Homo sapiens: one gene and its partners. The protein of the gene in region 5 purifies or fractionates together with the protein of the main gene of each other region. This does not show direct contact. Each region holds a gene or a part of one and is shown on either strand. Other genes may lie near its edges. The genes, in order: INF2, OLFM4, POMK, BACH1, POF1B, TCTN2 and SRSF4.

Region 1 (4,344 bases), on a different chromosome or scaffold from region 5:
GCCCTCCACCTGTCCAACTGCCCCAGGGGGCCAGTGGGCTCCTTCCAGGAGGCAGCCTGACAGGTGTAAGCCAGGGTTCTGATCTGCATGTCCCCAGCCCGGGCCCTCACCAGCAGACCTTGGCCCAGTCACTCATCCTGCCTGGGCCTCAGTTTCTTCTTCTGCACCTCCAGCACCAGGCTGCCAGGAGCATCCTGAGAGGCTGTCCTTGGGATGCCCCTCCTCCCTGCAGGGGGTCCTGGTCTGGGCACTGTAGAACGGAGAGCCCGGAGCCCCCGGTGCACTGTGGTTTTAAGCCACCCTCCCAGGCCCGGCCCTCTTGGTCACCCAGTGGCCGTCCACTCACCCAGATGCGCAAGACCTTCCGGCCACCTCTGCCCACCCACTCTGGGCCCTGTCCTGGGCTGCTCCTCACGCTCCCCTGGCTTCTCATCGCTGCTGACCGCTGAGCTGCCAGAGACAGCCGGGTCCCTCCCAGGCAGCCTCAGGTCCCCAACGCCCCTCCTGGTGGCAGTAGGGTTGCTCCCACCACCATGAAGAGCCAGGCAGCCGGGCCTCTGCATATATTCCCACCCGCCTTGGCTGTTGCTGCCTAAAGAGGCCCCAGAACTGACCCTCCTTTCCTCCCCCGCCTCCATTGGCCGGAGTCCCTGTCCCCTTGGCACAGGCTGAGTGGACGGAGTTATGAACTCTCCCAGGCCCGGCCCCTGGCATCCAGAGTGTCCTCTCCAGCCAAGAGCCCCGGGGGTCCCTCCATGCAAAAAATCCTGACCTTTTAGAGACAAGCAGTGCCGCCGAGAGCCACCGTGCCCCAGGCCCCAGGGTGTCCCTGGACACAGAAGATGCTCCCTGACCTGAGTACTGCCCCTCTTGGCACTGCCCAGCGCTCCTTGCCCTGTGCAAGCCCCTGAAAGACCCCAGTCAAGAGGATCCCCCTTGGTCAGTGGGGTGGAGCCACGGTGGGAGGAAACTGGCCCTCCTGCCCATCAGGTTCCTATACCCCCGTGCCTGGGTGCCTGGCTCTGTGTCTGAGCTGCCCCAGCTGGCCGTGTCCCACCGGGTGCTGTCTGGGGGCAGTGAGTGTAACAGGGTCTCGCTGGGCTGCGGCCCGGCATAGACAGGGCTCCGGCTGAGGCCCCGGAGGCTGAGGCCGGAGCTGCTCTCCTCCTTCTGTGGTGCTGCCAAGGCTGCCCGATCTCACCCAGGCCCCCCGTCAGGCTCTACACCGGAGAATGTTCCAACTGCTTTTCAGCATGAGGCTGAACCTGCAAACACACCACGGCCAGACCATATATGCAGCACTCTGACCCGCAATCTGGCCACTGGCCCCAAATGGCTGGGACCTGGGTAATAACTGACAGCTTCTGTGATTTTTGTCTCATCTCATAGGAGCCCAAATTCCAGCCAGCAGCCTCTCTCAGGGCATCCCCGAGCCTTCCCTGTGTCTATAAAAAGCTTTCTATGTATAGAGTGAATTATCCATATGAGAAAACCATGAGGCTTCCCACTCCCCCGCCCGCCTGTGAGTCTCTGCTAAACGCGGGTGGCGGTGGCCGACTCCCTGCTACAGCGAGCTCTGCAAAAACAGCCTTGCCTGTTCTCACTGGGGGGTGGTGTCCACTTCTGCAAGGATTCCAGAAGGAATCCACAGTTTACTGATCTCAGGGGCACGGGGCTATGGGGAACAATACGCTGGAAGGTGCCAGTGCCAACTGAGAAGGGAAGGGGGCGGGAGTCTCATTGCTGAGCTGTGTGCCCCTGGGCAGGCTACCCTTCCCCTCTGCTCTCCATCTGGAAAGTGGGTTGGCGGGGCCACCAGCGCAGGAATGTGTCCTCAGAGCTCCCCAGCCCCGGCTGTAGGGCGTGGCCACCTCCCCACAGGCACAGGAATTTGCGTTCTTCGCAATCTTTTCTACAGCCGGCACCAGCTCTGGCTGAGGCAGGGCAGGACCATCCAGGCTCTGCAGGGCCCAGTACCCATGGCTCAGGCCAGACCCCATGCCTTGGACAGCAAAAGGGTCAGGGCACCAAGAAGGGGCGTCCCATCCACCCCCCCCGGCAGTCCACCAGCACCAATGGAACTGCACAGGGCAGGGTCTTTTGCAGATGAAGACTCTGAGGTCTGAGGGGCTCACCCCACCCATGCTAGTGGGACATCACCATGGTTCTTCAGCACTTGCTTTTGTCAACCAATAGCCTGGGGCTTCCAGAGGACGGGGCCATGCCTCTCCCCTGACTCTAGCTCTGGCAGGCAGGGTCCCCCTCTGGGCCTGGGCCTGGCCAGCCTGGTGTGGTGATGCCAGCACCTCCATCCGAATGCCTACATGCTAGGGCAGCTGCACTGACTCTCGGGAAGCCACCGGGCCACCGCCCCGCCTAGCAGTCAACAGTCAAGCTGAGTGTGTGGTGTGGGTGGGGACAGGGCCATGCTGGCCTTCACTAGACCTGCAGCCATGTGCCTAGCCCCTGCGGTGCAGACAGAAAACCAGAGCCAGGGAGTGTGGGCTCCTGAGGCAGGCCCAGCACCGAGCTGTGGAGAGTAGCTGGGGGCTCCTGCATGGGCCCATGGTTCTGAGCGGCACACAGGCCAGGGTTAGGGTACCCAGACTTGAATCCCAGCACGCGAGGGACCTGAGCCAGCCACTGAAGCCCCCAGGCCTCGGCTCCCTCACTTGCCTCCCAGGAGCCAGGCGAGGAGGGCCTTCCACAGCACAGTGTGGGAGCTCCTATGCCCTCGGCCAGCACCAATGGGCCTGGAGGCCCCCGCTGTGACATGTTCTGAGTCTGCCTGGGACAGCCCCCTCCCCTGTGAAGTCCCCACTGGTAGGGAAGGGAGAGGTCTGCCTGGGTCCAGGCTCCCCACGAGGAACAGGCCAAGCCCTGAGCCTGGCAGCCCTGGGGTGGCAGGTACTGCCTACTGTGCCTGGGACCAAGGGGCTCTGGGGACCCTGAAGCAGTGGCGGGGGTAGGGCAGGCACTGGCTGGGCACATGAGCACCTGTGGGGGGCTGCTGCCTGGGAGTGGGCAGGCAGCTGTGGTGTCGCCCTTCTGGCACTGGCACAGGGCTGGGTGCTTCTGGGCCCTGAGCCAGCGTTGGTGGTGGGGGTGCAGGGAGGGAGCTTGTCTTCCACGGGGTGGGTGGGCAGAACGGCAGGAGAGGATTCCGGAACTAGGAGGCAGGGGCTGCCACACTGTATTTTTAGCTCCTCCGAGAGCCCCAATTTTTCCACTGCTTGGCAACCCATGGATCTCCAGGACTGCACGCGTTCCTGGCAGCACCCCGGGGTTCTGGGCAGCCCAGGCCCTGCAGGGCGGTGGAGGCACCTGGAGCTGAACCTGCCCTACCATGACCCCCATTCCCCTCCCTCACACTCAGACTCCCAGCTCCTTTGAGCCTCCAGCATGTGTCACCTTCCCCACCAGGCCAACAGCCCCTTGAGGGACCTCTACTGACCTGGTGGCTCACCAACTGCCGGCAAGGCCCAGGGAGGGTCTGTGCACAGGGGGCCTCAAGGCAGGTGAGGATGGGGGTCCACCCACTGCCACGTGTCCAGGGGCATGGGGCGCACTGGGCCTTGGTGAGGGCTGGCTGTGTCCTCACTGTCACCTGGCCCGTCTCACACCCAAGAAGCACTCCAGCCCTCATGCCACCTGCAGTCCCCAAGATCTGGATGGAGTGCAAGGCTCCTGCCTCCAAAGCCCTCCAAGATCTTGAACTCCGCTTGTTGTGCAAAGAGGGCCCCCGGGCCACTGTGAGGACCCACAGCAGGACAGAAGGGCCCCCTGGGAGCAGGTGGGCAGAAAGGCGCTCTCAGCAGCATCATGATCAGAAGACAAAGATGGGAAGCAGGCCGCATGGTGACGGATTTCAATCACATGGTGGGTGCGATACCACCGGGACACCTGCCCAATCACTAACTGAAGCTGCATCTCGGATGAATATGGTCGTTTCATACTGAGGAAGAAAGCAAGCAAAATGATCAAAAGACAGCAACATCTCACAGAGGGAAGCTGGGCTCAGAGCGGTGGTAGCCCCTGCTTGGGTCACCCAGAGAGCAGAGCTGGGGGCCAGGGGTCCTTCATGGCACTCTGGCAAGTGTCGGTGGAGGTGGCTGGGGGGTCCGGGCTGGCCAGCACTGAACGCCAGGGGACACCACTGGCCCGGGAGCCAGGCTACAGCTGGGCTCTCTGTGTCCCCAGGATCTGGGGCAGACAATGGGCCTGGGGAAGGTACATCTTCCTGGGTTAGGAACAGAGCCCTGTGGAAGCCACAGGGAGGAGGGTGACTCTGTAGGGGGGGTAGGGGGATGCAGCAAACAGGAAATGCCCCGGCTCACTGGGAGG
Region 2 (4,217 bases), on a different chromosome or scaffold from region 5:
GAGATTTCCTGCAGGCAGCCACTGCAGGCTGATACACCACGTCCAGTGAGAAAGAGGCTGGGAAGTGAATTTTTTCAGGCAAATGCTTCTGTAGCAGTTCAAATAAGAAGCTGATTGCTAGGGTTACCTTGGCTTCCTGCCTCCTTTCCTGAATCTTCAGAGGTCATACTGTGTACTTGGTACAAAACATTGATCTGGAAAACTGCCTAGAGCCAGATTAAATATAACATCCTGGTTTTTAACTTGTATCTCACATGACATACATGTCTTTATCTTCATATCTTGTTGCATTTTGAAGGGCATACCTGTCTCTACACTCAGCCCTGAAGAGATAGGGAAAAATCTTACTAAAATACTAAATATTATAGCTGCCATCTGTCTCAAAAAGTTTGGCAAGGATCCAAAATGAGCATTTCAGTAAGACTAACTACATCAGTCCACTGTGTCCTTCCAGCTCTAGGTCACCTGTCTTCTTACATATTCTCTTTGGTAAAGGTACTTCTCTTCCTGGTATAGCCAGTTAGTCCTTTTGCTTTCTGCCCAAGTCCTCCTGTCTGGGGAAGATCCAGAGGCTTCTGATCCATGTTCATAGCTCAATTGGAAAAGGAACATAAGCTACATAAATGTAGTCTAGCATTGGAAATAATCAGATCAGTCATGCAAATTAATAAGTACATAAGGTCATATCCCAAAAGATAATAGGGCAGTCATGTACAATAAAAGCTGCCAGAAAGAGTGGATTTTAAAGGGAAAGAAAAATGAAAGAGCCAGCCTAACTCTGGGCTCTTATAAAAGTTATTGATGTGATCTGTTGTTAGGTGTGCAATCTCCCCGCACTAGTGTTTGGGAGGTAGCCATTCTCCCAACCTCATAGCAAGATATGGACTACCCTGTTAAGAGCTTTAAAAAAAAATTAAAATTAAATAAAACAAAAGATGACTTTTTTCAAAGCACATTTTAATCATTTATTTTAAAAGGGGGAGTAAAGCATTTAAACTGCCAATCCTATAGACTAGGACTTGAACATCAAAGGAAAAATAGACAAAGACTAGATGATAAAGTCATTCAAAAGCACAGAAGCACATCACATACACCAGCAAGGTTTCCAACTACTGCACTGATTAACTAGATACTCTCAATAGCTTTTCTATAGCTCGTCCTAGAAAAAAAAATTAAATTTTCATTTTCTTACAAGTTCCAGGCTTAAACAAAGGCAAAAATTACATGCAACAACTGATACACTCATAAGTTGCACATATGCTCCAAGGTCTTTATTAGATAACAATAAATGCTAGCACTTTGTCACTGCCATCAGATTTTCTTATAGTCTTAGAGTCATGTAAATAAAAGTTCATAATGAAATTAAAGAAAATTAATTTTTCTAATCTTAGATCAGTTCCATAGAAAACTATTAATTTTTTTAAAGTAGGCAGTAGAAGGGGGTTGGTGGGGGGTGGAATTGGTTAGTAAGTCTGGTTCTAATCTTCTGAGCTGCCTTTGGAAGGAAGTTATGAGGTAGAAGATTCTACTGACTTTTAGTAAGGTGGACAATGAGAGAAAAGAAAAAGCAGGTGCCTCATCTACAGATCCTTCTGGGATTTATTTGCCATGTACAATTTAATGCATAAAAAGGCCTCTCTCCATAAAACTCAGCACTTTACAGATGTAGAATATATAAGCATGCCAAATTTACTTATCTGCCACATACAAAGCATCATTCCAGGTGCTAGTGAGGGGAAAAAAAAGTTGGAGATTTGGTCCCTCGAGGAGCTCCAGATATTAATCTACCTAACTAAGTCCCCAGGTTTCTTCCAGGCATGGAAGAATTAGTGGTGCTACATGGATGAGGACTAGTCATTGGGCAATATTTCCTGTACAAAGAATCCCTAGACGCCATACTGAGTTTTAAGTTCCTTAATTCCTAATTTAAGGCTTCTAGTGAAGCCTCCTCACAGTAGGCTTCACTAGGCCCACAGTGCCCCTAGACCTCTGACAATCCCACCCTAGACAGACTTTATTGCAAAATGCGCCTGAAGAGGCAGATGATTCCCAAGAGAACTCACCAAATCAAGACAAATGTCCTAGATCTCTAGTGTGGTAGAACTATGCACCTAAACATTGCTGCAAAATGAACACACTTTTAGACACCCCTGCAGATATCTAAGTAAGTGGAGAAGACTATTTTTTCAACAAACATTTTCTCTTTCACCCTAACTCCTAAACAGCTTACTGGGGCTTCTGCAAGACAGAAAGATCATAATTCAGAAGGTAACCATCGTTATAGACATAAAGTTTCTGGTCAAAAGGGTTATAGTTAATGCTCTGCACTTTTTCCTGCATCTTATGCATTACAATGTCTAGTTTGCCCTCTTTCCCTGTGTTTGTGTCATAATAGTAAAAAATCTCTTCTGTTCTGGTGTTCATAGTACGGGTGGCATACAGAACCCCACATACCATGAAGGCGTTAGAAGCAGATGGTTTATACTGCTTGGTATACCAAGTGTTTAGCACCTGAAGTGTGGTGTCATTGAGTTTACTAATCACCATGTTACCAGTGCTGGCTTCAGTTGAATAAATAACCCACAATCCATTCTCATCCACAGCAAAGTCAATATCTTGCCAAGCAACATTAGCATATGAAAAGCGGTTATTATAGGCAGCATTAGGGAGAGTTTGAGTCACAGCAATCGTGTTGGTGGTCAGGTTAACTCTGGCAATATTCCCGGTGTTGTACATGTTGACGTACATGTTGTTGTTGTAAACTGCTGTACCACTACCTTGGCCATAGGTGATCCGCAACTCTCGAGCATTTATATACAATAGCAAATCATCCAGTGTGTTGTACAGTCTATAATACTCCAACAGTCTCCCATCTGTATTCAATGGCGCCACCCAATACAGTCCTTTGTTTGGATGCTGGGGAGAGTAATCCCTACCCCAAGCACCATATAGATAAGAAAACCCTCTCCAGTTGAGCTGAACCACAGACGGTTTGCTGATGTTCACCACACCACCATGACCACAGCTCCCTATACAAACAAGAAAATAAAAAGGCATTTTTAGAGAAAAGGAATGACAGGATACAAATAGTTTAATATCCTAAGCACCAAAGGAATCTATAAATATTTTTCCTGTCAAGGTTCAATAACAACAGTGGTTCTGATGGAGAAGAGCCAAACCTCCTCTTAGTTCAGTGCATTCAGTCTCAATGCAAACCCAATGTCAGCTCTACAGAGAACTACATTCTGTTTCCATGGGTGGGCTTTCAATCTGGAAAATAGGAATAATGAAACCAGCAAGAACTATATTTAAAAAGTTTGGAGGCCCAGAGAGAGGAAAGGGAGACTTGGTGAATTTAATATATTTCCTTCTATCAGAAAGCATTTTGCAAATATTATCTTATTTTGTTTTTCTTATAGCAAAATCAAGGAAGCAAGATTATTCCACAATCCTACCCTATTTCTATAAATCCACAAGATTTATAGAAATCTATCCCAGAAAGAATAGTGATGAGGGAGAAGATTTTCCCAGGCAAGGCTTCATGCCCTTCCTCACTCTCCCCTTCCTTGGGACCCCCAATTGCACATCCACGCCAGGTACCAATCCTGCTTTAAGCTATTCTCAGAAGAGGATGTTTTAAATATAGCATTTTATAGATCCAGAAAGATGGTCCTATAATGGTGGGATTTCACCCTTGAGAAGCCATAAAGTTATTTTGGGGCAACATTGCCTGCTCCGTACCCAATGCACAGCCCATCAATAAATCACTTGCTGACCGTCCTGCTGCAGAGTTACATGGTGAGTCCTGCTGTTCATAACCCATATGCTATTGTGCCATAGAATGACATGCAAGTATTTCATCTTTCCATCCAGACACTGTCATTGTCACAATGTGTACAATCAAGTGGGACAAGATTCACTGGTCCACTGAATCTACATTCCCTGTAACACTTGGGTAAATAACTCAGTCTGGGCGATCAACCCTTCACATTGTACTCCCGCTGAAATGCCTGCCATCCCAGGAGTTTATGAGCTATAAAAATAAAATAAAGTTCCTCCAGTATTTTTATAATAACTATCCAAAGAGTTGAACACACATTTTCTGGGATCTTAACACTCAAAAAAACTCATGAGATGGTTTATTGGATAACAAAGAAAACCCAACTTCAAGTATATTTGAGGTCATTTTCCCTCGTCCTGCTGCTCAGAGCAGAGCA
Region 3 (4,054 bases), on a different chromosome or scaffold from region 5:
TTCAAATAGACAGGATGGTATCTACCATCATGAAAACAAACAAAGGCTTAAAACTCACTAATAGAACAGAAACACAAATGAGAAAAAGGAATCAAACATTATGACTATTTAAAAAACCACCAAATTGTAAAGTAAACAATACAAAAGAAGATAGGTGAAACCCCATCTCTACTAAAAGTACAAAAATTAGCTGGGTGTGGTGGTGGGCACCTGTAATCCCAGCCACTTGGGAGGTTGAGGCAGGAGAATTGCTTGAACTTGGGAGGCAGAGGTTGCAGTGAGCCGAGATCCTGCCACTGCACTCCAGCCTGGGAGACACAGCAACACTCTGTCTCAAAATAAAAAATAAAAATAAATAAAAAAGATAGGAAAAAATATATACAAGACAATCAGAAAACAAATGCACAGGACTAAGTCCTCACCTATCAATAAAAACCCTGAATGTAAATAATTTAAATTCTCCAATTAAAATACATAGACTGGCTGAATGGATTTTAAAAAAACAAGATTCAACTATATGTTACCTATAACAAACTCACTTCACATGTAAAAACACATATAGACTGAAAGTGAACAGATGGAAAAAAATATTCCGTGCAAATTTAAACCAAAAATGTGCAGGAGTAGCTATACTTATTCATAATAGACTAAGTCAGAAAACATAAAAAGGGACAAAGAAGATCATTACATAATGAAAAAGGGATCAATTCAGCAAAAGGATGTAACAATTTTAAATATATATGCACCCAATACCAAAGTACTCACATGTATAAACAAACACTATTAGAGCTAAAGAGAGAGGCAGATCCTAATACAAAAAAAAGCAGGGGATTTTAATGCCTCACTTTCAGTATTGGGCAGATCATCTAGAAAGAAACATCAGACTTAATCTGCATTATAGACCAAATGGACCTAACAGACATTTACAGACCCTTTCTTCCAACAGCTGCAGAATATACATTCTTCTCATCAGCACATGGACCATTCTGCAGCATAGACCATATGTTAGACCACAAAACAAGTCTCAATAAATTTTTAAAAATCTAAATCATATCAAGTACCTTCTCAGACCACAATGGAAGAAAAGTAGAAATCAATAACGAGAAACTTTGGAAACTACAAATCCATGGAAATCTAACAACTGGCCAGGCATAGTGGCCCATGCCTGTAATCCCAACACTTTGGGAGGCCGAGGAAGTCAGGAGTTCGGGACCAGCCTGGCCAACATGGTGAAACCCCACCTCCACTAAAAATACAAAAATTAGCCAGGCGTGGTGGTGTGCCTGTAATCCCAGCTACTCAGGAGGCTGAGGTGGGAGAATTGCTTGAACCTGGGAGGCAGAGGCTGCAGTGAGCCAAGATCACATCACTGCACTCCAGCCTCAGCAACAGAGCAAGACCGCATCTCAAAGAAAAAAAAAAAAATCTAACAACCAATGTGGACTACATACAAACGTACATGTGGATGTGGACAACGAACCACATGGCTAAGCCATAAAAAAAACAATAAAACACGAAACTCAGGCAAAAAACTCCACCATCAGAGTAGAATGCTGTAACTTCCATTCAGCCCTTCAATCCCACCTTCATTGGCTGGACTGGTTTTCACAGCATCTCTCTTGCCTGAGACATCATGGCATCTCTAAGTGTATCCAAGACCTTCTGGTAGGTCTCCAGAACGTCCTGGGCAGTGGGTCTTTCTGAGGGAGTCTGGCTCTTGCATGCTTTGTGAATATCAAACAAATGGAATCGGACCATATCACTCCCTTCAATGTGCCCCAGAAGGAAACTGGAGATGTCTGGGATCTTCCAAATGTCAATCTTCTCATCATATGAGGGCATGAGATCATCGTGGAAAGGCACGTCCTCTCCATAGGGCCACAGTTGCTCTGGAGCCACGAAATCCCCATGCAGCTCCCTGTGGCCGCACTTCACCAGCATCCCGGAGCTGTGGTTCACCAGGGGTAAGGCGTCCAAGTCATTTGCCAAAATGCTGAAGTTGCTTGTTAGCAGATACTGGGACAGTGTCTTCGGCAGGTCGTTGGAGTCGCACATGACCCGTGTGCCCACAGGGCTGTGGTGCAGGTAATTAATGATGCTGACATAGTCCATGGCCAGCTCCAGCCTGTGCTGCCACGTGTTCACATTTTGGTACTTTGAAAGGTTTAGTGTTTCTTCCAGGTTACTCAAGGAACCTAGAGGGTGATATTCAGTAAGCATAGTGTTGTCATCCTCACAATAGCCAAGCAGCGTGACAACATGTGTGCCTTGGAGAGATTTCAGCATCTGCAGTCCATGGAGGAAATCATCTTTCATCTCCAGGCTGGTGAGCTGTGAGAGTGCAACTTTGTGCTCCTTCCACTCAGACAGAAAGACCTGCAACAAAGCCATAGAGAGCATCAGGCCTGAACTCTCACCTAATTTAGTGACCAAAGAACAACAAATATCTTTTAAGTGGCAGGTGTTCTGCAGAAGATACAGAAATTAACAAGGTGCAGACCCCATCGTAGAGTTGCTCTCCGTCTAGTTATGAAGAGAGACCGATGAGCAAACACAGCATTCAGCAAGGCAAGTGCCACATTAGTGGGTGGAACCTCAGGGCAGGAAGCGATTGCCTCTGGGCAGGACACTGAGAGCTGCTGCAGAGGGTGCTGGAAGGCTTTGGGAAGCTGGTCTCATAGAACGAGGGGGACCTGCAGATTCAATGTAGGGCAGGGGAGTGCTAGCTCAGGAGGGAAGACTCCATATAACTGCATGGCAGGGAGGAGTGGCAAGTAGACTGCCAGTTCCAATGGACCACCACACAGTGGGTGGGGAGGAAGAGGAGGCAGGGGAGTGGACTGGAAAAGTGGGTAAGTGTGGAGACCCCGAAAAGCCTACATGAGGGCGTAGAGCCCTGCCCATCACGTGTAACAATGTTACTCATTAATTTTAAAAGGTGGCATAGTAAATCATAAATAGGAACATTTATATGTAAGGAAAACATTTTTGCATGTTCTGTGGTTTGGTGTTACTTCAGCTGTAAAGGCAGGAGCTGAAATGCTACATAAACACTAGACCTTCTCATAGAGTCCACAGCTAATAGAAGAGCAAGTTCACATTTCTGCCTTGGATTTTCACCTTTCATTTGCTTGCAGGAAGCACTGTAATTAAAGGAAGAACCTCTGATCTTTTGCTTAAATCCCAAGAGAAGGCAGAAGATTACAAAAGAGAAAGCAGGCTCAGGACTCAGGAGATTCCTGCCCCAGGCTCATTCTGCAAGCAGTGTGCCATGTCATTGTTCAAATAAAGGTTATGGTTTCCAAAGCAGTTTTTTGCATTATTTATCAAGAGACTCTAACATCTAAATCTAAGGCAATAATCGGAAATAGGTAAGAAGCTCCAGGAATAAAAATCTGACATTATTTATAAAAGCATACACTGAAACTTATCAAAAGATGGGAGCAGCATGATCAACATAGTGAGAACCCATCTCTACAAAACATTTTTTAGAAACTAGCAGGGTGGGCCAGGCGTGGTGGCTCACACCTGTAATTCCAACACTTTGGGAGGCCAAGGCGGGTGGATCACCTGAGGTCAGGAATTCAAGACCAGCCTGACCAACATGGAGAAACCCTGACTCTACTAAAAATACAAAATTAGCCAGGCGTGGTGGTGCATGCCTGTAATCCCAGCTACCTGGGAGGCTGAGGCAGGAGAATCACTTGAACCCGGGAGGCAGAGGTTGCCGTAAGCCAAGATCACGCCACTGTGCTCCAGCCTGGGCAACAAGAGTGAAACTCTGTCTCAAAAAAAAAAAAAAAGAAAGAAATTAAGAAACAAGCAGGGTGTAATGGAGCGTACATGTACCCCCAGCTACTCAGGGGAGGCTGAGGTGGGAGGATCATTCAATATATATATATATCATGCGGTCACCAAAATGTATATATTTATACAGTTATAACAGATAAAAGTAATGGTACGGCTGGGTGCGGTGGCTCATACCTATAATCCCAGCACTTTTGGAAGCCAAGGCAGGCAGATCACCTGAGGTCAGGAGTTGGAGACCAGCCTA
Region 4 (4,344 bases), on a different chromosome or scaffold from region 5:
TTCTGTTACAGATAAGGAAACTAAAGGCTTGAGAAGGGCAATAATTTAAAGACTGAAAAAGTCTCTGCTCCCAGGTCCAAATATTACATTTCAATTCATGTTACATGACTCAAGTGGTATGTGGGGGAAGAATAGGTAAAACTGAGGAGGGATGGAAGAACAAGGAGTTCAAGAAATACCCCAAGTATCCTGTGTGTGATGAGAAGGAACACTATTACACAAACAGATTAAATGGGCATTTGTGGAACAACAAATTTCCCCTTATTAATCAATATTTGGTGAATCTTTCTTTTTTTTTTTTTTTTGAGACAGAGTCTCACTCTGTCACCCAGGCTGGAGTGCAGTGGCACAATCTTGGCTCACTGTAACACCTGTCCCCCAGGTTCAAGCAATTCTCATGCCTCAGCCTCCCAAGTAGCTGGGATTGCAGGCGAGCATCACCACGCCCAGATAATTTTCATATTTTTAGTAGAGACAGGGTTTCACCATGTTGGCCAGGCTGGTCTCGAACTCCTGACCTCAGGTGATCTGCCTGCCTCGCCCTCCCATAGTGCTGGGATTACAGGCATGAGCCACCACACCCGGGTCTGGTGAATTAATTTCTAAATAACACTCACTAGATCATATAACCAATCTCATGCATCACTGAAAGGAACCTGACACTAAACTGTGCTCAACTTAAATCATCAAGGTCTATAGTTATACATACTACATATGGACAACTAGAAGAAGAGAACACTAGGAAGTATTTCACTACAAGTTACTTTCAATACAGAGGATTAAGCATCCATGTTCTATTTTCATAATGAAATAAAGATTCTTCATATGCCATCTTGTTTTTTAAACTGTAAAAATTACAACCATAATTCATATTCTTTAGGAGGCGAAAGCCCTAAAACTAGTTGATGGCCAAAATGACCCCCTGCAGGTTTAAGAGTTGACACACATAGTATGCATAGTAACCGAAAAGATAAAATAAACAAAAAAAGTGCTCTTCAAATTCCTAACTATACACCAACTCACAATAAAATTTGAGTCAAAAAGGGGGGTGAGGGTGGAGGGAGGTGCTTAAGAGTATAAAAAAGAATGTTAACAATTTTAATTAAATAAAACAGAAGTTACCGTAGGGCAATCAGTATATCATATGAATCACAAATTTGAAACTGTTTTATTCAAGTAGAGATACTAAACTGAAATGTCTTATTTAAAAACAACCTAATCCACTAATCCCTAACAGCCACCGTAGGGCCACAGTTTCTCAATATACATAGCTAAAACTAAAAACATAAGTCTATTTTTTACTATTTAACTTGGGAGTCAAAATAATCATTTCTAAAATGAGGATTTCCAAGCTACAGATTTGCACCAGTGATCTCAGTAACTACTTTTCATTATATCATAACCACAAGATTCAGCCAAATAAGGAACAATTTGCAGCCTATAAATAAAGCTGAAATATAGCTCAGTTTAAATAGCATCTGAGGAACTACTGAGTAGGGAAATACTATTGCATTTATCTGAGACAAAAATTATATTGGTAGTACAAGTCTTTCTAAATTCTATCCAAAAAACTAATACCAGTTCAGAAGCCTACTCTGGCCATTTATCACAGTCTATTTGTTACTCTCAAAAAGAAACAACCATTGAGCAATTCTCATTTTGTAAATTTACAACACTCAAGTGTTTAGGATTTACATTATTTGTCTGCCTTTCACAGCACAGAAAGCACCCAGACCTGCGATTGAGAAGGAACAAGAATGAAATACAAAAGTGCTTTTACACAGTGATCATACTTGTAACAACATACACAGGTGTCCCCCTTATCTACAGGGGATACATTCCAAGAACCCCAGTGGATACCTGAAACTGCAGATAGTAACAAACCCTATATATATACTATGCTTTTTCATCAAGCACAGTAAGAGATTAACAATAATAAAATACAACAATTATAACCATATACTGTAATAAAAGTTATGTGAATGTGATGTTTGTCTCTTTCTCAAAATATCTATTGTATTTAATATTTTTGGACTTCATCTGACCACAGGTAACAAACTGCTGAAAGTAAAACAGTGGGTGGGGATCCTACTGTATTTCAAAATTGCTAAGAGAGTAGATTTAAAGGTTCTCACCACACACACACACACACACAAAGGTAAGTGAGGTAATGGACATGTTAATTAGCTTGATTTAATCTTTCTACAATGTACACATACAGCAAAACAGAAAAGTTAGGAGTACTACAAGAATACTGTATAAACTTAAGGTGGCATTAATTTTAAAGTCTGAAAAGAATGACGAATAAGCTAACTACGGGACAGCTTTCCCTTCGAGGAGGGGAATGAGTGTGTAGAAAAGGGAAGATGTTCCTGTTTGTACTCCTGATTCAAGAATTTGCATTCTAAAGAATCCTGACCCATCTAGCCAATGAACTAACAATTCTATCTGAGCCAGGCTGGCCTCAGCACTCAGTGCAAGCCATAGAGACCACAGGTGGGTGTGCACTATGGACTGAGGGACAGAGTAGTCCTCTTAGTATACACATAATCAGAAACTACAAGATATAATTATATGTTCTCCTCTCCCTGAAAGGAATAAGACAATGGCAGGGAACTTTTGAAATGTTTAAAGCATTGAAAAAAAAAATTATTTCTTCTATATATATTTATTGACAAAATTGGCATTTTCAATTTTTAAATAATTTTTAAATAAACCATTGATTTGATTTGATTGTAAAAGTGCTACTTGATCATAGAAGGAAATGGCATATAAGAGGAAAAAAAGTCACCTAAAATTCCAAATCCAAAGGCAAGCACATTTTCTTTTTCTCCTCCGAAGTTTGTATCTAAGTGTAGTGGTGGCAGAACTAGTAGACAAGGATGTCACTGTTAACTGCACAACACCATTCACCCCCTCACTTTCTAACCAAACCCTGACTGTGCTCACGTATCTACTCTCAACCCGAGGCCATCAACTTCCAAGGAAGTAGACCCCAGCCACAACCTAAGATGAATCACGATCCATTTATGCCAATCACAGCGGTACTATTCCCCTTGACCTTGACTCATTTAGGCACTGGCTTGTGTGCAATGCTGACCTATGAAGAGAGGAGAGAGGGACAAGGTAGCATCTGCTATGAGGCTTTAGGGAAAAATTTTTCTCACTGATAGCAACAACCTAGGAAAAAAAAAAAAAAAGTGTGTCTTCTTCCAGGAAACTTAAGTCATATTTTCTTGTGACACTTGAACTTGTGGCAGCCATCTTGCAACCATAAGAGGAACTTGCCAAGGACAAAACAAGGACGTTGCCTGCATCTTCAACCTTTTTCCATTGACTGGATTTTTAAATACACACACACACACACACACACACACACACACACACACACACTCTTCCTGACCCAACTTCTCCCTACTAAAATCTATTTCTCTCTCCTCTTATTCACAGCTAAGCTTCTCAAATTGAGTTGATACAAGTTGTTTCCTCCACTAACCTATGCATTCATCACTAAACATCCCTAAGGCTTTCTTGATTTCCCAAAACTTAGGCTTTTAATAGTCTGTGGTTCCACAGCACATTTTACATGTTGCTACTATAGCATGCTATGGGAATAGTTTGCCTGTCTATTAGACTGTAACTTCTGAAAAGTTCATTATTGCCAATATCTGGAAAAGTTCCTGGCTTATAAAAGCCTAAACATTTGTTTCATAAGTTAAATGTAAACCAAATGCCTAACATGTAGGAATGCCACAAATATTGACATGAATTTAGCAACCCTACTGTCCACATACACTGAAAGTTAAGTATGCGTTCATGTGAGTTGGGGGAGAACAGCAGCAGGAACAGGGAGAAAAGAGAACACAGTGCCTTAGCCTTGAAACTTAAAAACACAGTTTTTCCTCACTCTTCAGAGATTAGAGAGCTGTTCCAAGCTAATTCAACAAAAAAGAAGAGGCTGTTTCCACACTGGCATCTGAGAAGCAGTGGTAGGATAGCTCTCTAGAATCTCAGCTCCTCTGCTATTTGTGACCACTGTTGCCAACCTGCTCAAAGAAGAAAAGGTGGCCCAGCCTTTCTGGGGTCTGGAAAAAGACAAACTAGTCCAAAGACAGGAGGCCCTCAGAGACAAAATATACTTTTTAGAAATCTAAAAAAAAATACCTATAGTTTGAATAGCACTTGTGACAGTCTTTTACCACAAAGAGACAACGAAGTAGGGAAAGTTAATCGTAATTACATGCTCATCCCCAAGCAGCATTTCCTTTGACTTCTCTGGATGACAACTGAAACTGAAGGCATGCCAGCAAAGAATCCGAGTGAGCTGGGCAAAATGCTCTCTAC
Region 5 (4,344 bases):
CGTCAAAATAGGGCTAAAAATGCCCAAGTGAACTTACACAAGTGTATTTGTCTTCTGTTTTCTCAATCACAATAGTCTGTGTTTCACTACCTGGTGGTATATATTCGTAGTCATCATATAGGAGGCCTAGGATTGGATATTGTGTCCTGTACCTGTTGGCAAGAAAAGAGTTAGTTTACAGGCTGCATGAGAAAATAACTTTCATTCCTTTTTAGTCACTCCTAGTTTGATTGCCCTAATTAAGCCAATTCGGCTCTGAATGACTTTTTAACTGTTACTGAAAAAACAAAAAAATAAAAAAACCCTATTTCAATGGACAGAGATGTACAACCATTATTTTCAAGAAAATAAAATAGAGGGACTTCTGTTTCTGGCCATGATGGACGACTGGCAGCACAGGACAGTGACCCCAGAAAAGGGAAGCAAATGATATGGGCCCTACAAGTGCCTAGCTCACTGCCTGGAGAGATTTTCTTGGTCACGGGATAAGTAAAAGGAAGCTAAACAGATCCCAGCAGTCTCACCAAGATAAGGTGATAAAGTTTAGAGTAAATATAGGCAAAGGCACCCAGAGTTTGTGGGGCAGAGTATCAGACAGAAGAGAGCTACATAGATAGAGAGAGGTCAGGACAGCTGTAGAGGTTTTCCCAAAAGCCTTTGGGTGAAAACTGATCAGTGTGCCTGTATGTGAAGAAGCTACCAAGACTTAGGAAATAATGACTAGAAAGGAGCAGGCTGGCAATTTTGGGAGCTCTCATAGGGATGGTAATGTTTTGTGTTCCACTAACAAAACCAGAGTGAAAAGCTCTCCTGATATAGAGGCCATCAGATAGATACTGCAGAATATTGCCTTAGTAGTGGGATAAAATTAGCCTCAAAGTACAGGTTATTCTCAAAGAGTTTAAAAGCAAGGCTTGGATGTATTAAATTGTTTCCAAATAATTTCATCTCAGAACAAAACTCCAAATATTTTAAGTAATACCCTAGCGAAAATCTAAAACTCAACAATATAAAATCACAATTCATGGCATTCAACGAAAAATGAATAGTCATGCAATGGACGATACGACTAATAATGAAGAGAAATATAAATTAGTAGAAACAGACCAAGAGACAACACTGATAAAAAAATTAGTAGGTAAATGTGCATCTATTAGAAACATATAAAATATACAAGGTATATTCAAGAAGTTAGAGGAAAGCATGAACACAGGAGAGAAATAGATAATATAAAAAAGATCCACATTGGACTACTAAACATTAAAAAAATTAGGTGGAGTTAACAGCAGATTAGGCACTGCATTACAAAAAGACCGATAAATTTTAATACATCAAAATAAATAATTTAAAATAAAACATAAAAGAAAACGGAAAAAAATGAATGCAGCATGAAATAACTGTGGAAAATATCAAATGTCCTCATATATATATAATTAAAGTCCTGCAGGATTGGTGGTGGAAAAAAATAATTGACATAATGACCAAATTATTTCCAAGCATGATGTAAAGCTATAAACACACGTATCCAAGAAGCTCAGTGAACGTGAAAAAAAGAAACATGAAGAAAACTACAGAGAGGCACATCATTATCAAATTCTTGAAAACCAGTGAAAGAGAATCTTAAAAACAGCCTCAGAGAAGAAAGGACATTATTCAAAGAACAAAAATCATAAGATTAACAAAAAACTTCTCAGTCACAATGAAAGTCAGAAGACAGAAGAGCAATATTGTTAAAGTACTTTTTTAAAAAAAATGTAAAAAATCTCCTTAAGCTGATAAGCAACTTCAGCAAAGTCTCAGGATACAAAATCAATGTGCAAAAATCACAAGCATTCCTATACACCAATAACAGACAAACAGAGAGCCAAATCACGAGTGAACTCCCATTCACAATTGCTTCAAAGAGAATAAAATACCTAGGAATCCAACTTACAAGAGATGTGAAGGACCTCTTCAAGAACTACAAACAACTGCTCAAGGAAATAAAAGAGAACACAAACAAATGGAAGAACAGTCCATGCTCATGGGTAGGAAGAATCAATATCGTGAAAATGGCCATACTGCCCAAGGTAATTTATAGATTCAATGCCATCCCCATCAAGCTACCAATGACTTTTTTCACAGAATTGGAAAAAATTACTTTAAAGTTCATATGGAACCAAAAAAGAGCCCACATTACCAAGAAAAACCTAAGCCAAAAGAAAAAAGCCGGAGGCATCACGCTACCTGACTTCAAACTATACTACAATGCTACAGTAACCAAAACAGCATGGTACTGGTACCAAAACAGAAATATAGACCAATGGAACAGAACAGAGCCCTCAGAAATAATACCACACATCTACAATCACCTGATCTTTGACAAATCTGACAAAAACAATAAATGGGGAAAGGATTCCCTTTTTAATAAATGGTGCTGGGAAAACTGGCTAGCCATATGTAGAAAGCTGAAACTGGATCCCTTCCTTACACCTTATACAAAAATTAATTCAAGATGGATTAAAGACTTAAATGTTAGACCTAAAACCATAAAAACCCTAGAAGAAAACCTAGGCAATACCATTCAGGACATAGGCGTGGGCAAAGACTTCATGACTAAAACACCAAAAGCAATGGCAACAAAAGCCAAAATTGACAGATGGGATCTAATTAAACTCAAGAGCTTCTGCACAGCAAAAGAAACTACTATCAGAGTGAACAGGCAACCTACAGAATGGGAGAAAATTTTTACAATCTACCCATCTGACAAAGGGCTAATATACAGAATCTACAAAGAACTCAAACAAATTTACAAGAAAAAATCAAACATCCCCATCAAAAAGTGGGCAAAGGATATGAACAGACACTTCTCAAAAGAAGACATTTATGCAGCCAACAGACACATGAAAAAAATGCTCACCATCACTGGCCATCAGAGAAATGCAAATTAAAACCACAGTGATCTCAGGCCACTTAGAATGGCGATCATTAAAAAGTCAGGAAACAACAGGTGCTGGAGAGGATGTGGAGAAATAGGAATACTTTTACACCGTTGGCAGGACTGTAAACTAGTTCAGCCATTGTGGAAGACAGTGTGGCGATCCCTCAAGGATCTAGAACTAGAAATACCATTTGACCCAGCCATCCCATTACTGGGTATATACCCAACGGATTATAAATCATGCTGCTATAAAGACGTATGCACACGTATGTTTATTGTGGCACTATTCACAACAGCAAAGACTTGGAACCAACCCAAATGTCCATCAATGATAGACTGGATTAAGAAAATGTGGCACATATACACCATGGAATACTATGCAGCCATAAAAAAGGATGAGTTCACGTCCTTTGTAGGGACATGGATGAAGCTGGAAACCATAATTCTGAGCAAACTACCGCAAGGACAGAAAACCAAACACCACATGTTCTCACTCATAGGTGGGAATTGAACAATGAGAACACTTGGACACAGGTTGGGGAAGATCACACACTGGGGCCTGTCGTGGGGTGGGGGGAGGGGGAAGGGATAGCATTAGGAGATATACCTAATACAAATGATGAGTTAATGGGTGCAGCACACCAACATGGCACATGTATACATATGTAACAATCCTGCACATTGTGCACATGTACCCTAGAAGTTAAAGTATAATAAAAAATTTTTAAAAATGACCAGCTTACTCGTCTATACACAACAAAAATACTTTTGAATAATGAAGAATTGATAAAGACTGTTTTTAGACTTAAAAGGCCAAAAGAAGTCTTCACCAGAGAAGCATGATAAAAAATGTTAAAAGAAGTTTTTAAGGCAAAGGGAAAATGATACAAGATAGAAATTTGAATTTGATCAAAGTAATACATAGCACCAGAAAAGATAAATATGTAGGTAAATTTACAACATTGTTTTTCTTATTGTTAACATTTCTTTAAAAGATAGTTGGCTGTTGAAAACAAAAACAATAATGTATTTAGGGGCTAATAATATATGTGAAAGAAGTTTATATGATAAAAATAGTAGAAGTCATATTAGTCATATGAAGGAAATGGAAGTTGATTATTACAGAGTTGTTATGCTACATGTGATGGGATATAATATTATTGGAAGTCGGCAGTGATCACTTGAAGAATATTATGAACCCTACAGCAAACAAAAGAAAGAAGTATACCTAATAAGCTAATAAAATAGGTTAAATGAAACATGAAGAAATAATTCATCCAAAAGAAGAGAGGAAAAGAGAAAGAAAGAAAATGTGAGGTAAATAGAAAACAAATAGCAAGATAGTAAATTTAAATCTATCCATATAGATATGTATTGCCTAAACACTCAATTAAAAAGCAAAGATTGTTAAATTTGATAAAAAC
Region 6 (4,344 bases), on a different chromosome or scaffold from region 5:
CTTCCTGTGTTGTGTGATTAAAAAAAAAAAAAAAAAGCCAGGCATGGTGGTGTGCACCTGTAATCCCAGCTACTCAGGAGGCTGAGGCAAGAAAATCTCTTGAACCCAGGAGGTGCAGGTTGCAGTGAGCCGAGATTGCGCCACTGCACTCCAGACTAGGCAACAGAGCAAGACTCCGTCTCAAAAAAAGAAAAAGAGAAAATAAAGAAAAAGGTCAGAGTCAGAAACTAAATTGGAGAGAGTTACTTATAACCATCCTGATGGCTGGGAGTGTTGAACTAAAGTATGTTTGTAAGATCAATGACTGGCATATACTCATCTTACCTGGATTTCCAGATAATTCTTCTTCATTACCACTATTATAGCTTAAAAATTTTACTACAAATCTCTGTGTCATTATCCCTAGAAATAAAACAAAATAAAATATAATGTGCACCATTTCACTAGGAAAAGAAATTATTCTCCATAGTGTTTACCTTAAAATTGCATTTTGTCATACAAAGTGTACTCTCGTTAATTAAATCATAAATGCACATAAGAAACAAGTCCAACTTAGTTTTATGGGTTATAATTATGAGAATCTTGAAAAGAGGAAAAAAAAATACTTTTCAGTGAAAGCATGCTTGCTACCCTCATCAAAGTTACCTTTCTGGTGGGCATTAATCTCTGCCCTAAAAATTTTAACATTTATTTCACTGATGGTATTATTATTCCATTTGAAAATATAATGTTCTTCCACATTCACAATTCTAGGGGTTGATCCGTTATTTAAAGGAGTTTCTGCAAATACAAGAATATGTTCATAAATTAAAGACCCTCTTTGAGCCTGACTCTGTTACTGGGAGGTTCTCTCTGCTTGCGTGGCCTTCCCCAAGTGCCCTGCCCCTGCCCTCCCTATCTCCAGCTCCCTAACATGGCACGGTCACTGCTTCCTTGAGGAAGCCTGCCCTGGTCCCACCAAGTCAGCATTAGCTGCCTCCTCTATGCCATCACAGTACCCAGAATGAGATCTGTTCCTTTCATTTCTATATCTCCAGCACCTGGCTCATAGCTTGCCATGGAGCATGCACTTGGTAAAATGTTTGTGAGATGAAAGACCAGAGGGTCAGTTCCGCCAGGGCAGGGGCCCGCTATCTAGTTCCCTACTACGGCGTAGGAACTCCACTAACATTTGATGAGCCAATGAATAAATTTGAGAAGTACAACACATCAGAAAGAGACACCCAGCACTTGGGGAGGCCGAGGTGGGCAGATCACCTGAGGTCAAGAGTTCGAGACCAGCCTGGCCAGCATGGCGAAACCCTGTCTCTACTAAAAATACAAAAATTAGGCCGGGTGCGGTGGCTCACGCCTGTAATCCCAGCACTTTGGGAGGCTGAGGCAGGCAGATCACGAGGTCAGGAGTTCAAGACCAGCCTGGCCAACACAGTGAAACCCCCTCTCTACTAACAATACAAAAAATCAGCCAGGCATGGGGGCAGGCACCTGTAATCCCAGCTACTCGGGAGGCTGAGGCAGAAGAATCGTTTGAACCCAGGAGGCAGAGGTTGCAGTGAGTGGAGACTGTGTCACTACACTCCAGTCTGGGTGACAGTGAGACTGTCTCAAAAAAAAAAAAATACAAAAAAATACAAAAATTAGCCGGGATTGGTGGCAGGTGCCTGTAATCCCAGCTACTCAGGAGGCTAAGGCATGAGAATTGCTTGAACCTGGGAGGTGGAGGGTACAGTGAGCTGAGATCACCCTATTGCACTCCAGCCTGGGCGACAGAGCAAGACTCTGTCTCCAATTAAAAAAAAAAAAGAAAAGAAAGAAACAAACAGTATCCTTCATTAAAAACTAAAGTTCTGGTAAAATTAGCCAAACTGAGCCAGTCGCCGTGGCTCACGCCTGTAACCCCTGCACTTTGGGAGGCCAAGGCAGGTGGATCACCTGAGGTCAGGAGTTCGAAACCAGCCTGGCCAACATGGTGAAACCCCGTCTCTACTAAAATACAAAAATTAGCCAGGCATATGGTGGTGAACACCTGTAATCCCAGCTACTTGGGAGACTGAGGCAGGAGAACTGCTTGAACCCAGGAAGTGGAGGTTATAGTGAGCCAAGATTACACCACTGCACTCCAGCCTGGGTGACAGAGCAAGAATCCATCTCAAAAAAAAAAAAAAAATCTGCCAAACTCTACGTAACTTATTTGGCTGCATCACAATTGGAAAGTTTAATTATCAAAAAAAAAAAAAAAAAAAAAGGAAAGAAAGCAAAAAGTGAAAATGCTGTGCCCTAAAAAGTTCTTTTAACTGGTCGGGCGCGGTGGCTCACACCTATAATCCCAGCACTTTGGGAGGCCAAGGCAAGTGGATCACCTGAGGTCGGGAGTTCGAGACCAGCCTGACCAACAGGGAGAAACCCCGTCTCTACTAAAAATACAAAATTAGCTGGGTGTGGTGGCGGGTGACTATAATCCCAGCTACTCAGGGGGCTGAGGCAGGAGAATCACTTGAACTCAGGAGGCGGAGGTTGCAGTGAGCCGAGATCATGCCATTGCACTCCAGCCTGGGTGACAAGAACAAAACTCCGCCTCAAAAAAAAAAAAAAAAAAAAAAAAAGAATTATTTAACTATCAAACATTTAAGGAAAGGTTCACGGAAGCTGGAACTAGAAGGGTCGGTGGAACTCAGAGAATCCAGGACTGTGGAGGAGCAGGCTCAAGGTCACAGAGAGCACTCTAAAGCCCAGCAGGACAGAACGAGGAACAAATGAAATGTTCCTGGCAGATCTTTCTAACTATTGTGAACCTTTTTAAATGACTAACAAAAATATACACTCTGAGGGTATATATTACTTGTAAGAAATGACATATCTGTTTCTGAAGAAATGACGTCAAAGTGTAACATTAAATACCTGTATTGGTGATGAATTTGTCTAGGTCAGTTGCTTCCTCATAGATCACTTTTGGTGTAACTATGCCTAAAGAGATAACATAAATTAACTTCCACAGGCGTACACATGGCCTACCATGATCACACTTACTCAAAGTATAGCTTACAAAGCAAATATGGTGACCGCAACTGCCCAGGGTGCTGACTACAAAACCCTCCCCACTCCCCAAAAACCATCAGATAGGAGTCCCCATCCTCTTAGCATCTAATTATAACGGAGGAAGAAAATCCACAACAAACACACAAACAAACAAAAACCAGGGTCACTGTGACATAAAAACAAATATGCAGTTCACTGCTGGTGGCAATACAAAATGGTGCAGACACTGTAGAAAACAATTGGCCAGGCGCAGGGGCTCACGCCTATAATCCCAGCACTTTGGGAGGCCGAGGCAGGCAGATTGCCTGAGGTCAGTTTGAGACCAGTCTGGCCAACATGGTGAAACCTCCTCTCTACTAAAAATACAAAAAAATTAGCCGGGCGTGGTGGCTCATGCCCGTAATCCCAGCACTCTGGGAGGCCGAGGTGGGTGGATCACCTGAGGTCAGGAGTTCGAGATCTGCCTGGCCAACATGGTGAAATCCCATCTCTACTAAACTTCGTCTCTACTAAAAATACAAAAATTAGCAGGGCGTGGTGGTGGGTGCCTGTAATCCCAGCTACTCGGGAGGCTGAGGCAGGAGAATCGCTTGAACCCAGGAGGTGGAGGTTGCCGTGAGCCGAGATCGCGCCATCGCACTCCAGCCTGGCGGACAAGAGCAAGACTTGGTCTCAAAAAAAAAAAAATTAGCCAGGTGTGGTGGCACATGCCTGTAATCTCAGCTACTTGGGAGGCTGAGGCAGGGGAATCGCTTGAACCAGGGAGGTGGAGGTTGCAGCGAGCCGAGATCACGTCACTGCACTCCAGCCTGGGTGACAGAGCAAGACTCCCTCTCAAAAAAAAAACCAAAAAAACAAAAAAAAAACAATTTGGTGGGTCCTCAAGAAGTCATATTAGCATGACCTGTCAGTTCCACTCCTAGGTGTCTACCCAAAAGAAATAAAAACACACATCTACGCAAAAACTTGGACACGAGTGTTCATGGCAGCACTATTCACAACAGTCAGAGATGAAAACAACCCACATGTCCATCAACTGAGGAATGGACAAACACAATGTGCTCTGTCCATGCAATGGACTATGATTCAGCCATAAAAAGGAATGAAGTGCTGCCACACACTACAAACACGGATGAACCATGGAACACCATGCTCAGTGAAAGAAGCCAGACACAAAAGGCCACATAGTGTATGATTCTGTTTCTAGGGAACACCCAGAATAAGCAATCCACGGAGACAGAAAGCAGATTGGTGGCTGCCAGGAGCTGAGGGAAGAGGGGTAGGGAGTGACTGCTAATGGGTACAGAT
Region 7 (4,344 bases), on a different chromosome or scaffold from region 5:
TCTTCTGCATGTTACTTGAAGGTTGCTGGGATTAAATTTTAAAAAGAAAAACAAAAAAGTGCTTTAAATTAAACTATACAAATGTAAAGGATTCCTAACTATTCTTTCCTGAACCTAAATACACTTCACTCATTTGGCTAGAGATGACTTGTTTAAATATGGCCAAAAAAAGCGAGAAGGGAGACAGAAAACAAAACCTGTTTCATGCATCCTCCTAAGACCATTCAGATTATGATACTGCTCAGTAAGTTTTTCTTCCTATTGAGATTAAAAACACTGTTGTCAATAAGTGGGGCCGGGTGCAGTGGCTCACGCCTGTAATCCCAGCACTTTAGGAGGCCAAGGCAGGTGGATCACTTGTGGTCAGGAGGAGCTCGAGACCAGCCTGGTCAACATGGTGAAACCCCGCCTCTACTAAAATACAAAAATTGGCCGGGCATGGTGGCATGCACTTGTAATCCCAGTTACTCAGAGGGCTGAGGCAGAACTACTTGAACCCCAGAGGCGGAGGTTGCAGTGAGCTGAGATGGCGCCACTGCACTCCAGCCTAGGCGAAAGGGCGAGACTCCATCTCAAAAAAAAAAAAAAGCTGGAACCAGTACACTGGATGGCCAACATTAGCACTGAATCTTAATTCTTGACACCAAACCTCTTTCAGGACAAATATTCCATCAAAAACCTTATGAAAAAACATGGGTCAGATTGTCAATTTCACCAGTAAGGATACACACTGAAGCTGATGTGAATTTGCATGTTATAGCAAATGCTGCAGGAAACACTGATGGTTTCAACCATTTTATTGACTGGTGAGTAGCTACACTGCCATCTTCTTGTAACCCTTTTTTTTTTTTTTGAGACAGAGTCCTGCTCTACTGCCCAGGCTGGAGTGCAGTGGCATGATTTTGGCTCACTACAACCTCCACCTTCCAGGTTCAAGCAATTCTCTTGCCTCAGCCTCCCAAGTAGCTGGGACTACAGGTGCCCACCACCACGCCCGGCTAATTTTTGTATCTTTTTAAGTAGAGACAGGGTTTCAAACATTCTTTACAGAGAGAAATTTCGTTATCACACATTTGGGCCAGGTTTCTGTCATGTCAGCACTTGAGGAGGCTGAGACTGAAGGATCACTTGAGGCCAGGAGTTCGAGACCAGTCGGGGTAACATAGTGACAACCAATCTCTGAGCCATGATTGTGCCTCTGCACTCCAGCCTAGGCAACAGAGACTCTGTAACAAAACAAAATCAGGCCGGGCGCGGTGGCTCACGCCTGTAATCCCAGCACTTTGGGAGGCTGAGGCGGGTGGATCACAAGGTCAGGAGTTCAAGATGGTGAAACCTCGTCTCTACTAAAAATACAAAAAAATTACCCGGGCATGGTGGCGGGTGCCTGTAATCCCAGCTACTCAGGAAGCTGAGATGGAGAATTGCTTGAACCCGGGAGGCGGAGGCTGCAGTGAGCAGAGATGGTGCCACTGCACTCCAGCCTGGGCAACACAGCGAGACTCCATCTCAAACAAACCAAACCAAACCAAACCAAACCAAACCAAACCAAACCAAACTCACAAATGTGTCCTTAGAATGATGGTCCCACAATGTATAGCAGGAATATAATTCTGATATATTTTGTACTCATATGGCACTTTAATTATTTCCAGCTCTGTGCAGGCTTTCAAACATATAACACTGTATTTTGTGTATGCCTGGGCCTGCACAAATCTACCTGTTTCCCAACTTTAACTCCTGCCCAACCTTACCCCAAAAGGTTAATGGGGCCCAAACCTTTAGGTCTTGCCAGCTGCACCGACTTGACAAATTCTCCACAATAAGTCTGTACTCTGTGCGAGTAGGAGGGCCATATTTATCTCGGCCACTTCTTCTATAACCATATCCACCTTTGGAAGGTTCAAATAAATAAGATTATTTCAGTGGAAGAAAAGGAAAAAAAATGACACAGCACACACCCCCCCTTAAATATATTATTTACCCCCACCCCAAACAATAGCACGTTTTAACTCTATTCCCACCCTTAATTCTAAAATAGATTTTTAAAGAAGCAATCAGCTAAATATAAACATTTAATTTAAAAAGTTGTAAGTATACATATTCATTAATATTTGCATTTAAGATTAACATGCATAAATTTAAAACTATTAACAATTTAACAATTTAGAAATAAGTAACCAAATTACTAAATCAGTTACTGGTGTTACTCACAGTGATTAAACATTTTGTGAATATTTTATATGGAAAAAAAAAGATTTTCAGGCACCTATTTCAGTTTAATCTCATCTGTGTCTAACCCTTGGGATCCTCACCACCCAGGTCTAATGGGGAAAGGTTGCGGTCGTCACATGGCTTCCTGTTTTTGGTCAGCCAAGGGCCACAATGGTTCAAAGAGCCACGCATGGAAAGGTAACCCAAGGTCAGCAAATGGAACAGGCAGTCATCTTAGCCTCAAAGGATTCTTTTAATTAAAACATTGAGGTCTTTGTTAAATCTATGTTAAACAATTGCATTACAGAGAAAAAAACAACAACAACACAAACACACATCATTAAACATATTTATAAAGTATTATAAACAAGAAATTGTCATTAGTTTAATTAAAATTAAACATTATCAAAGGCTTATTTGTAATTCTACATTTTTAAAAAAGATACATAATTTACAAAATAGCTTAAACATCAATACGTTTAAATGTAATATCAATTAATTACTTTAAAAATTAGCATGATAACAAAAGCACGTTACTGATAAAAGTATGCCCTTTGAATGCTTACTGCGTCCAGAACCGTAACTGCCATCTCGCCGTGGGCCGCGGGCATGCTCAACAATTACTCGCTCACCACAAAGGTCTTTGCCATTCAGTTCATAAACAGCATCATCTGCATCACGCAGATCATCAAACTCCACAAAACCATATCTAGAAGAGAGCAAAGAAAATACTGGTTGGTACCATTTTGACATCCAGCTTCACTAACATTAAAGAGAAAGCAATGAGGTTCATGCTTAGCAAAGGTTAGGTGGATTTTGCAAACTAAGGATCAACTTTGTCTTCTCTTCAGGTGAAACCACTTTGCTTTGTGCCAACAGGCACTGAAAGAGGTAGGGAGACTTCTCAAAGTAGACTCCTATCTTTCTAGGAGGAGGCTGGCTACATACACAGGACACTTCTTTTGTTTCCCAAGTAGTTGGTGGCAACTGCAAAGACAGGGATGCTTGGTATAAGAATCCAAAATATATAATGCTACAAGACATATAACGCTCTTTCAAACACCACATAAAACTCATCTTTTTTAGCTTTAAAAGTGGTATCTTAGAGAACAATTAGACCTACATTCAGGCACTGTGTAATAACTGTTGAATCATGTGAAAGTAAAAAACTTTTTTTTAAGGTTCCTGTTCCTCTACGTAAACACATCTGTCACATGTGATTATCAGTGAAAAAAAGACTGGAGCTGTTTACTTCCCTGTGAGATTCCAAATTCATTTCCATGAAGTTTTAGAATAGGATGGAATTCTCTGAAATCTGTATACAACTCGTGCAAACTTCTTTAAATGGTATTGCTACATCTTTTCCAGCCAAGAGGTTTGGTGGCTTAACATATAACCAAAAGAACCCCCACCATCCTACTAATGCCTATTAAAGAGTACAATTTATATAGCTAAAGTGCAAAATTTGTAAGATACTTATAAGCAAGGTTATACAAATGCCCTGTAAATTATGTTTTCAAGAAATATTTAGTTTGGTCTGACACAGCTGTGAAAAGTCCAGCTTTGTGACCATTGCCTATATTTAAAAACCAAAACCATCTTATTGATCATAACTAATCAGAAAGGAAAGTTACAAGCAATTTCTTTAAACTCTAGTAAGGCTGTGTGTACACGGGCACACAGACTAGTGTTCCTCTGCATTTAAACACACTGACACTACAAACAAGTTACAAGACTTGTCAGAGGGTCACTCAGCCTGCTGACAAAAAATGATTCCAGTTTACTTATTTATTTATTTATTTTATTTTTTGAGACAGAGTCTCGCTGTCGCCCAGGCTGGAGCGCAGTGGTGCGATCTCAGCTCACTGCAACCTCCACCTCCTGGGTTCAAGTGATTCTCCTGCCTCAGCCTCCCGAGTAGCTGGGATTACAGGCGCACGCCCCCATGCCTGGCTACTTTTTGTATTTTTAGTAGAGACAGGGTTTTGCCATGTTGGCCAAGCTGGTCTCAAAACCTCAGGTGATTCGCCCTCCTGGGCCTCCCAAAGCGCTAGGATTATAGGCGTGAGCCACTGCGCCCGGCCTCCAGTTTCTTTAGAATGTGATGCTATACTCAGTAACATGTTAAAT

The links.
Region 1: the proteins of POF1B (region 5) and INF2 purify together in Homo sapiens (co-immunoprecipitation; one large-scale study listed by IntAct). This does not show direct contact.
Region 2: the proteins of POF1B (region 5) and OLFM4 purify together in Homo sapiens (co-immunoprecipitation; one large-scale study listed by IntAct). This does not show direct contact.
Region 3: the proteins of POF1B (region 5) and POMK purify together in Homo sapiens (co-immunoprecipitation; one large-scale study listed by IntAct). This does not show direct contact.
Region 4: the proteins of POF1B (region 5) and BACH1 purify together in Homo sapiens (co-immunoprecipitation; one large-scale study listed by IntAct). This does not show direct contact.
Region 6: the proteins of POF1B (region 5) and TCTN2 purify together in Homo sapiens (co-immunoprecipitation; one large-scale study listed by IntAct). This does not show direct contact.
Region 7: the proteins of POF1B (region 5) and SRSF4 purify together in Homo sapiens (co-immunoprecipitation; one large-scale study listed by IntAct). This does not show direct contact.

Annotation. Positions count from the first base shown.
Region 1 is NC_000014.9:104,695,601-104,699,944, reverse strand, and holds part of INF2 (inverted formin-2), read right to left. Parts: intron 1-4,344.
Region 2 is NC_000013.11:53,048,781-53,052,997, reverse strand, and holds the end of OLFM4 (olfactomedin-4 precursor), read right to left. Parts: intron 3,030-4,217; coding exon 2,227-3,029; 3' UTR 941-2,226; downstream 1-940. UniProt on the Homo sapiens protein: May promote proliferation of pancreatic cancer cells by favoring the transition from the S to G2/M phase. In myeloid leukemic cell lines, inhibits cell growth and induces cell differentiation and apoptosis.
Region 3 is NC_000008.11:43,120,429-43,124,482, reverse strand, and holds the end of POMK (protein O-mannose kinase), read right to left. Parts: intron 2,377-4,054; coding exon 1,606-2,376; 3' UTR 1,049-1,605; downstream 1-1,048. UniProt on the Homo sapiens protein: Protein O-mannose kinase that specifically mediates phosphorylation at the 6-position of an O-mannose of the trisaccharide (N-acetylgalactosamine (GalNAc)-beta-1,3-N-acetylglucosamine (GlcNAc)-beta-1,4-mannose) to generate phosphorylated O-mannosyl trisaccharide (N-acetylgalactosamine-beta-1,3-N-acetylglucosamine-beta-1,4-(phosphate-6-)mannose).
Region 4 is NC_000021.9:29,305,219-29,309,562, reverse strand, and holds part of BACH1 (transcription regulator protein BACH1), read right to left. Parts: exon of another isoform or gene 4,241-4,344; intron 1-4,240. UniProt on the Homo sapiens protein: Transcriptional regulator that acts as a repressor or activator, depending on the context. Binds to NF-E2 DNA binding sites. Plays important roles in coordinating transcription activation and repression by MAFK.
Region 5 is NC_000023.11:85,282,166-85,286,509, forward strand, and holds part of POF1B (protein POF1B), read right to left. Parts: intron 153-4,344; coding exon 38-152; coding exon of another isoform or gene 14-37; exon of another isoform or gene 1-13. UniProt on the Homo sapiens protein: Plays a key role in the organization of epithelial monolayers by regulating the actin cytoskeleton. May be involved in ovary development.
Region 6 is NC_000012.12:123,691,278-123,695,621, reverse strand, and holds part of TCTN2 (tectonic-2 isoform 1 precursor), read right to left. Parts: intron 2,965-4,344; coding exon 2,899-2,964; intron 781-2,898; coding exon 646-780; intron 403-645; coding exon 325-402; intron 1-324.
Region 7 is NC_000001.11:29,157,595-29,161,938, forward strand, and holds part of SRSF4 (serine/arginine-rich splicing factor 4), read right to left. Parts: intron 3,202-4,344; exon of another isoform or gene 2,968-3,201; coding exon of another isoform or gene 2,924-2,967; coding exon 2,781-2,923; intron 2,417-2,780; exon of another isoform or gene 2,270-2,416; intron 1,893-2,269; coding exon 1,780-1,892; intron 1-1,779. UniProt on the Homo sapiens protein: Plays a role in alternative splice site selection during pre-mRNA splicing. Represses the splicing of MAPT/Tau exon 10.